Linked DNA regions of Homo sapiens: region 2 is linked to region 1. Evidence: fine-mapped expression QTL. Tissue or cell type: lung. Region 1 holds a variant in brackets; the other region holds the start of a gene. All regions are shown on one strand. Distances are between the middles of the regions.

Region 1 (5,268 bases):
AGTTATTCAGTGATTTAGATGTGAGGCAAGGAAAGTGGTAGCCCTGTATGTCTATGACTAGTGACATATATGATTTCTTTATGATGTTTAGTCCTAAGGACAATTTCCACAGATTTACAACCTGTGCAGCTGCATGAAGCTGCATGCAGGACCTCATGCTTGCCTTAATGCTTTTACCACCTCAAAATTCTTAAAAATTTACACAAAACCATGCATTGTGGGGTTATTGTGTGTTTATTTTCTGTAGCTGCTCGGAATACTTAGGAATAGTTGAGAATGGCAAAGATCCAGGTTCACAGTGCGCTGCGATGGGAAGTCTATGGGTAGGGAGAACTCTCAGGCGTTGCTGATGGGAGTACAAAATATTAACTCCTTTGAAAGGTGGTTTGGTAATACTTATCGAAGTGACTAATACCTATAGTTCTTGGTCCAGTAAGGCTAAAGCACTATTCTGAACATTTATCCCACATATATTGCTATGTAGATATGTAATGATGTAGGTACAAGGTTGAGTAGAAGAGTAACAGGTGGGAACTAATCCAAGGGGCCAGCAATAGAGCACTGTTTAGAAAAAAAAAAAAAATGAAGACGCTGTCTATTTACCAGTAGGGAAAGACTCCAAGTTATGTTGTTAGTTGAAAACAAGAAAGTGCAGAATGGGTATGTAGTAGGCTACCTTTTGTTTTAGAAGGGAGAGGGGCAGAAATACGTGTTTATTTTTCATAATTGCGTCAAAAAATTAAAATAGACAAGAAGCTGATGAAAGTGCTTACCTGTAGGAGGCAGTGTGGATAAGTGGGGTGCATGTGGACAGGGACAGGATGCAAAGAATACTTCTTTTATATACCTGCTATGTGGTTTGGATTGTTTGACCATTTGATAGAATTACCCATTCAAAACAAACCAAAAAATGTAATTTAAAAAGGAGTGACAGTACAACTACTTTGGAAAAAGGTAAAACTTTAGAGCTAAATGTACAATTACCCTTTGACCTAGCAATCCACTCCTGGGTATTTTATCCAAGAGAAATAAAAACATATATCCACAAAATGACTTGTAAAAAAGTGTTCAGATAAGCTTTATTTACAATACTTAAAAACTAACTGAAGTATCCATCAACAAGAGAAAGAAAACAATTTGTGATACGGAATTCATACAGCAACAAAAATTAAGCAACAGCTGACTCAGGCAGCAATGTGGAAAAATTTTGCAGACATTATGCTGCATAAAAGAAGATGGACATGAACAACTATATACTGTATGAATCCATTTATAGAAGTTCAAAAACAGGCAAAATTGAAGTTAAAAATCTCAGAACTGTGGTTGTTTCTTGGAAGAGGATGGGAGAGGATTGCCTAAGAGGGAACTTTCTGGGGAGATGGAAATATTCTATATTATGATAAGGGTATGTGTTACCAGGTTTATCCGATTATCAAAATAGTACAGCTAAGATTCGTGATTTTTAATTTATGTAAATTTTACCTAAAAGGAAAAAAAAGAATAGTTACAAAAAAAAAAAAGAAGTCTGAGGTGTGGGTGGAGGTACAGATGACACAACCATGGCAAAATACTGATAATTGTTGAAGCTGGCTGATGGATAAACAGGGTTCATTGTGCAATTCTGCTTACTTTATTTATGTTTGAAATTTCCCATATTAAAAAGTTAAAGCCATAATAGAATGATCGTGGGGATTGGTCATTAGGACTAATTGGTCATTTATCACTTTGGAAGCCAAAGAGTTAGACTTTTCAGTGAGTAAGGATTAGCTAAGTAAAATAAGTGAACTTCATAGACACATGGTGGCAACAGAGCCTGGATGGAAAACAGTAGCCTAGGCCGGGCCAAGGTAACGGAAAAACAACTGCAATGAAGGCAGAGAGAGGAAGCTACCACTCAGAGGTAATGGAATCAAAATCACTGCTCCCTTCTTCTCAATGTTATTCAATACCCATCCCTAGGATTTGCCTAGCTCTGTTTGATAAAACTGCAGTAGTGACCAGTCAAGCTTTCCTGATATGCTTGAGGTTTGTTTTTTATTCTTGGACAGTATTTAATACTCTAACCTAGGAAGAGCACAGCGTATTAAGATACCATCCAAGGGTCCATAACAAGGGTCTTCTGAAAATAGGTGTGAACCTTCAAAAGATCAAAGAAAAATTATGTATAGCATTTGAGGAAAAAGTTTTTATTGATTAGTTTTAACTCTGAAGAGCCACTTAACGAGAGCATTTGAAAAGTTAAAAATTGAATACATACAATGTAATAATCAGATGTCCTTCACATCTCTGTGAGTGACTTAATGGGCTCAGGGATCCAGCGGTAATAAAAGAAGAACTTCCAGGGGAAGTTCTGAGTTTGCCAGAGGATGTGAGAAATACCCTTCCTGAGAGATATTTAAAAATCAGTTCATGACCCATCAATCTGGAAGGATTCTGAGGAAGCCTGCTGGGGTTGGGGGGAAGATTCAGTAATAAGATCAACGGACAGTCTTCCTGCCCTGAGGCTCCGAGACCCTGCAGACAGCCCGCTCACAAGTCTGTGCAGGGGACTGTGTGGCATCATGGCTTTGCATTCGTTGATTTTATCTTTTGCAAGATCCCTGGTATAATGAGATGTTTAAAACTGTTCTAAGTTTCAGTTGTTATTTTTATTCCTAAAGGGAACAAGAAAGAGAAAGAAAACAAAATCATATTTGTACAAAAGAATCTTATCTCATAATTTACAAGCAGAATATATATTTATATGTATAAATACATATATATCATTGAATACATGTGTTATGCTACTATTTTTCGCATATTGTAGCTATAAAAAACAAACCATATGTCATTACATTTATCCAACCTCTTGCTCATCTGGAAAGACTTTTTTTCTTCAAGCTTCTAAGAGTCTTTAATGTGAACCAATTAAAACATTGCAATTTTTTAAAGTCTTCTGTAAAAGGAAG[T/C]AACTTCAGCCATTAGAAAATTTAAAATTTGGAGTCTGTATACTAAGAAAATGCAGAGAATGCAAACCTGAGTTATAAATACTTTTTCTTGTTCATTATACCTTGTAGTAAGACTTACCCCCTGCCTGAAACTTACTCAGTATTGCCAATTTGTATTTTATCAGATGTATTATCAAGATATGCCCAGTGTTCTGGTGAAATTGAAATGATATAACCATAGAAGGGAGGATAATTCATAAAGCCATCTAGGCTATTACCCTATTTTAAAGCAGAGATTTATTTAATGTATTACAATTCATTGTTTGGCTATTTTATTTTTCAAACCTGGAGAATAAATTTCTACATTTCCATTTTGCAATAAATGACCAAAATAATTTATTTCTGCGGTCAGAAACATTTCTATGGCCAGAAGTATTTCATATCTGCGTTCTAGTCCTGGCTCTTACTGAAAGGTAAATCATTTCTTTGTTGCCATGTTGTCAGAAGATGTAAAAACTGACTTTTCACTTCCATCTTAATAAAAATTCTTTTCTCCTCATAAAGCACCGTCGACTAACCATAAGTCTTTTCTAAGGCTGAAGAATGATAGAGTCTCCCTTTTTTTCTTATATGTCTAGTCCATGATTGCCAGCATTCTCCTCCATAAATACTTATCAGCAAAACTCTAGAGGTCGAAGATCATGGCTTTTACACCTTTGTTTGCTTATTTATTTATTTATTTATTTATTTATTTATTTTTGAGACGGAGTCTTGTTCTGTCGCCCAGGCTGGAGTGCAGTGGCGTGATCTCGGCTCACTGCAAGCTCCGCCTCCCGAGTTCGCGCCATTCTCCTGCCTCAGCCTCCCGAGTAGCTGGGACTACAGGCGCCAGCCACCAAGCCAGGCTAAATTTTTTGTATTTTTAGTAGAGGCGGGGTTTCATCGTGTTAGCAAGGATTGTCTCGATCTCCTGACCTCATCATCTGCCCGCCTCGGCCTCCCAGTTTGTTTGCATTCTTTCCCCACAAATAATGGGCAAAACTCATAGCGGAAAAAAGGGTGATGCAAATAATATCTTAAAAATGTATTTGATTTATTAAGCATCAATTTGCCTCTAATGTTTTTATGGACACTTGTTCTAATAAATGTATTGTTGAAGACAGTTGACATTGATGAAAAGAATCAAATAAAAATTATAAATTCAGAGACACATTTGACCAAACACCCAGGGTAAAGTGTAATAGTCATTCCTTCCATTGGTTAGCACATAGCTTCAACTACTGATTAGTTCGTTACTTTTTTGATATCTCACCTGGAATTCATATACAGATTTAATTGTAGGCAAAGATTTAAAAATCATAATATGAGAGCCAGTATTTTTTACAATTCAGAAATGAGGATCAAGCCGCCTAAGAATAGAAGTAACTACCATTTCCTGAATATGTACTAAAGGCAAAGCTGAGTATATTATTCTCTAATACTCAAAATACATAACGAGTTCAATATTTTTGCCTTCATTTTACAAATAACAAGACAGGGGCTTAGAACAGGCAACCAAGTTGCTTAAAGCCATATCTGGGTCCGAATACAGGACCCCACTACTTTGTAACCTTTCTAGAGTAAGGCTTTGCAAAGTAGTCCTGGGAGGACTTGCAAAATCTCCTCAAATCAGCTTTGACTGCTGTCTAAATCTATTCAGAACTTCCAGATAGCTAAGATAGCAAGACATCTAAATGCTAAACAGTTGATGATGGAAGTATTTTTGGGCTTAGTTTTTAAAAAATGTATGATTCAGTAGTTTTTAGTATGTTCAGAATGCTGTGTCACCATTACCGTTATCTAATTTCAGAACTTTTTCATCACCCATAATAGAAACCCCATACTCATCAGCAGTCACTCCCCCTTGCCCTCTTTCCGAGCTCTTGACTACTGATCTACTTTCTCTGTATACACATTTGCCTGTTCTGTGTATTTTATATAAATGGAATCACTCAACATATAATCTTTTTTGTCTAATGTCTTTTATTTAGCATAATCTTCTCAAGGTTCATCCACGTTGTAGAAGGAATCAGTACTTCATTCTTTTTACGGTTGAAATGATTCCATTGTATGCTATTTACCACATCTAGTTTACCCATCTATCAGTAATGGACATCTGGGTGGTTTCCACTTTGGGGCCATTATGAATAATGCTGCTGGGAACATTCATGCACAAATTTTTGTCTGGACTATGTTTTTAATTCTCTTGGGTAAATACCTAGGAGTAGAATCGCTGGCTTATATGCTAACTCTATGTTTAACTTTTTGAGGAACTGCCAACTGCTTTCCAAAGCGACAGTGG
Region 2 (5,000 bases), 160 kb after region 1:
ATAGGCTATAGCAAATCAATCAAATGCCCAGAAGTTTGTATGAATATACAAACAATGGATGACCCAAAAGAGAGAGAGAGAAAAAAACCATGTGAAAATCATAGAGTGGTGTAGACAAAGCCTTTGACTTTTAGTCATGGCTTTATTTGTCTACATGTCTTCCAAAACAAGACTTTTGACTTACGAGCCTGAATAAGTCACATTCAAACAGGTCAGCATTTATACACATCACAGTACATCTTCACTTATCAAAAAATAATTCATATCACATTCAATGTAAAGTCATCAGTAAAATTCGCCCTGTCAAAATGCTACCTTAAGAAAAATGAGTTTCTTCACTAACATGAAAAACTGAAACTAGCAACACATTCTTTCAATGAATTGTTTCTAAATTTTGATTCTCAAAGAATGTTGAAACTTTGATTAAAGAAAAAGGGTGTGTGTGTGTGTGTGTGTGTGTGTGTGTGTGTGATTGCAATTTACCCATTTGGGCTAAGACTAAATGGCACAAAGTGTAATGTAGGGCAAAGATTGGAAAACTTTTTCTCTAAAATGCCAGATAATAAATATTTTTGGCTTTAAGGGCACACAGTCTCCATCCAATTGCCTTTGGAGTAGAAAAGCAGCCACAAGCAATATGTAAACAAACGAGCATGACTGTGTTCCAATAAAACTTTATGAACACTGAAAATTAAAAATTGAAAAATCTGAAGACCATTCTTAGCCTGTGGGCCTGAAAAAAACAGTAGCAGGCTTGATTTAGCCCATGGGCCGTAGTTTACTAACCCCTGCTCCATGGAACTACATTAAATAAGAAAAACATTCAACACTATCACAAGCTAAATTCTTAGCTCTGCCACTGTTTTTCCTGGGAGACCTTGGACAAATTATTTAACCTGCCTCAGGTTTCTCATCTGTAAAATGGAGTTAATAACATTAGGAGCCTCAGTGGGTTACTCTGAACATGAACTGTAGTAATACATTTTGAAAATGATACCAACTGCACATAGTAAGTGTTCAATAAAAGTTACCTGTTAATACACATTACGATTCTAGAGTTAACTCCTTTTTACTTCAGTGAAAACATTAGAAAAGTAGTTCTTTTGTGTTTAAATTTTTAAAATTGTCTTAAAGTGCCTAGATGTTGTCTTCTCAAAGGAAGAAACTAGATTTGCCCAAAGAGGTCAAGCACATTTGGAAAGGGGCAAACGCACAAGGAAGCCTGCTTTGCAAAATCTGCCTAAAAGGCTAGCTCCATCTGAACAGACACCTACCCGGTTTCTGTCTTCAATTGTCAACAGTTCCTCCTCCATGCACTTATCCAAGACGTCTCTAACTAGAAGCTTGTCCACCAGAGTGGGCTGAAGGAGGTTCAGCAGTTGGAGATATTCATCATGAGCGTTCTCAAACGATGGAGAGGGCAAGTCCGTGAGCTCAGGGTTCATGTAGCGGGCGGCCAGAGGGCTGCCGGTTCTCCGGAGGGCCTCCACGAATTCCCGAGTCCAACCAAGGTGCCAGACTCCCTTCTCCAAGGTGCTCAGCAGCAGTTCAACTGCCTGCATGTTCCCGGAGGTGGCGACTGTCCTCTGAATCTGCTCCTTCACCTCTGCAGGCAGAAAGGTCAGGTAGTCCAGCACAGGCTCCACCTGGATGTACATTTTCACCCTGGCCCTGAAGCACGAGATGAGATAGCGGAAATTCTCGTCTGTGGAATACCCATTCGACATCTTTCTTTCTCAGAGAAGGGAGAGGGTTCTCCCAAGCAGATGGTGCTGTTGTCTGCGGGACAGGTGAAATGTGCGTGCCGCTGTCCGCTGCCCACTTAGAGAAGCAGGGTCTACCGCTCTGTGCCTGACAATGACGAGGTTGTCCACAGGGCTCTCAGGCCGGCGCGCGGGGCTGCACTCGCACCTGGGCAGGTGGGCAGGCGGGCAGGTGGGCAGCGGGGCGGCGCGCGGGGCCGCGGCAGGCAGGTGCGGCCGGCAGGCGCGGCACTTTGGACTCTGCGGTGTGCGCCTGGGGTCCCGGACCGGGGCGATCCTGCTGCACACTCGGGTAGGAGCTTTGAGTCCAGCTTTCTGTCAGGCAGTTCTTACAGAGTTTGCCTGACTTTGGTTTCTGTTTCGATTCTCTTCTCAGGACTTTGTAAACGTAATCTGCCTGGCGGGGAGGGAGTTTCCTCAGGGAGACGCCACCTTTTGGTCGGGGCGGGTGAAGAGAGGAGGCCTTTGGTTAAGGACACCGCGGGAAACAGAAAAGGAAAGCGAATTCTCTCTGACACCAAGACCAACGCTCTAGCAAAGCTCCTCCGGCGGATATTTTGTTTTCCCAGCAGGTTCTGCCTTAACAATAAGGTCCTTTGTAGGCCAAAATGTGCAGGGCATAAAAGCATGTGATTTGGGACTTTCCAAAGGGGAAGTGAACAGAAACTGCCACAGACCCGGACGTGAACAGGGAGTTACCCTCGGCTGGTGAATGTAGGCAGGCCTGGCTGAGGGTGGTGAGACTGCGAGGGACAGGTGAGAGATGAAGCTCAGAAGACATCTTTGCAGAGATGTGGAGAAGACAGGAGGAAGTCCTTCCTAAAATAAACCTGACCTCCTGTGGGTTCCCAAACACTAACTTGTTTCCCTGGGAATTTGGAGGTGGGTTCGAAAAAGTGAGTAACAATAAACAGTTAACTTTACTGCCTCATATTTAGATTGCTGGTATTTATGCAGCTTTGACCAGGACCTGGTAACAGATGTGGATGGACTTGAACCACCAACTCAGCTTAGAAGGAAGCCAAGACTTAAAGTTTCCTAGATCCCAGCTTGTAAGTTCCCTATATTCTTTAATATACAACTTTCCTTTAATAAAACAAAACAAAAAAATCCCCCAACAACTTATTTTTGATATAGCTGCCATTCTTTTCTTGGATTCAATACAGCAAGTTTTGGCTGGAGCAGCTAGGAACTTAATTAGCAACTAATGTACCAACTTGTAGTAAACATCAACATTTGTCTATGTCATGAGAGAAAAAAAACATATTCACACTGAAAAATGGCAGCTTCATTTTGGTACAGAAGCCACATAAATGTGAGTCCTTAAGGTTACTACTCATTCTGAAGGCATTCTGTAGCCACATGTGACTGTGGGTGGTAGGCACATACGCACCATAACTAGAATCTCATGGTCCAGAATTATATAAAGGATGGAGAGATCATTTAGGTTATCAAAGAGACATATTTAGGAAAAATAATCTGTTAGCAAAGTACATTCAATAAAGTCTGTGTAGGCCAGGAAAACCTGATAGTGCTTTGAACAGGATAATAGAAGTACAGAGTCTTGGTGAGTGTTTACTAGGGGCATACAAAATATCCAAATGAGCACTTTATGGTAACATGTCTTATTTTATTCTCTAATTATCTTATGTAGCAAGGCTTTTTCTACCCCTGAAGGATTGTAAGCTGCTTGAAGAAGGGATATATTTACATAGTAACTAGTACACTACTCACAACTGGTGGGCTCTTGATGACATCTCTCCTGGGAGTTGTATTTGAGTTGACCATAGCAGCTGGCATAATGTTAAATACACTGAAAGTTGAAGTAAATGAAACCTTGGGCTTGCAGGTAGGCCTGATTTATACTGTTCTTTTCTGTTTCTTCACAGAACCCTACTCCTTTTTCACTTAATTTTGGGAGATGACCTTGTACCCAGATAGAGGATAATCCAATTAGATGTTTCTACAAAAGCACTCAAATTATTAATTTTAAGTATTGGGTCTATGAAAATATCTTTTAAGGCTGTTGCAAAAACATACTCCTATCCCCCAGCTGCCAGTGGGTTTTATTCAACATGTTAAAGCACAAACTAACAAACCAAAAAACATTCTTTTTCCTGGCACTTATCCTTCTGTTTCTTGGTTTCAAACATGGGGGAATGAGAAGGGGTTGCTGACTGAATATGGGGAACCAGTTAATGTTATTTTCTTCATACCACTTAATTGTTGCTCTGGAAGAGAAAGGATCAAATGTTTGGTATTTGACCTGTTCTCAAATAATAAACATTTAAACCAAAGATATTTAAATATTTGGCATTCAAATTATATCATTCATTGTATCATCTAGTCATTTAAAATATGTTTATTAAGTATCTATTACATGACCAGCACTGATCTAGGTGCAGTTAATAAAATTAACAAAGCTCCTACTTTTATGGAGTTCACATTCTAATGGGAGTGGGAAGATAGATGGTAAGTAATGACTAAAAAATATGCAATGTGCAGGTGAGGATAAATGCCCTGAAGACCATAGTAAATCTACATAATAATGTATATTACAGTTTCACAGGTTGATTTCCCAAATAGTCATCCTCCTCTAACCCTATTAGCATCACATAATACCCAACAATAACAATTCATATTTTCTCACAAGTAGGAGTCTCTCTGCTGGATGAGGTCTGAGTGATGAGGATTAGGTGTGGGTGGAAGGGACTTCTTTTTTAGGAATCTCCCATAGTCTTGATGGGACCCTTTTTGGAGAAAGGAGGTTAAGGAAACAAAAGCCAAGACACAATCTCTCACAATGTATCCTTTTTTCATCTATATTTTTTGCATCATGATTTAGTTTATTTTCTGTTTTTCACTTGAGTAATTAATTGTTTTCCTCTGTCAAGTTTCTTCTACTAGGTTTCATTTTAATCCTTTTCACCAGTTCCCAAATGTAAGTTTCTTTTTCCTTTCTCTTTTGAGGCAGGAGATCCTGCTGAACTATGTATTTTCCCATTGTTATGCAACTTTTCATTTGAGTTTTTAAGAAGTAGTAACAATATGAGCTGCCACTACAATTTAACGACCATGCATAGCAATAATGTCTTTTTCAAAGAAAATGACAATAATTTTAGTTTAGTGAGAAACCCTGGAATTGTTGTTCTGTTCCTTTACTTGTTTGCTCATTTGTATCAATAATGAGCCTGCTTTGTGTAATTTAAAGTGTTAGATGCTCTTAACCTGGCAGTG

What was found. PIP is the estimated chance that this variant, and not a neighbour inherited with it, causes the effect.
Region 2: IFIH1 starts here. The variant in region 1 is fine-mapped to the expression of IFIH1 in lung (TOPMed, PIP above 0.99).

The regions. Positions count from the first base shown.
Region 1 is chr2:162,154,527-162,159,794 of GRCh38, forward strand. All of the region lies in intron 1 of LOC101929532 (a long non-coding RNA gene), which reads left to right. Among named protein-coding and RNA genes, the nearest start is that of GCG, 4.9 kb to the left of the region's middle. The variant T/C (reference allele first, on the strand shown) is at 2,949.
Region 2 is chr2:162,316,581-162,321,580 of GRCh38, forward strand. IFIH1 (interferon induced with helicase C domain 1) reads right to left here and starts at 2,104. Exons shown (of 16, transcript NM_022168.4): 1 at 1,275-2,104. The coding sequence starts at 1,727. It also overlaps a transcript of GCA not described here. RefSeq lists a silencer at 1,899-1,988 and enhancers at 2,019-2,568, 2,137-3,336.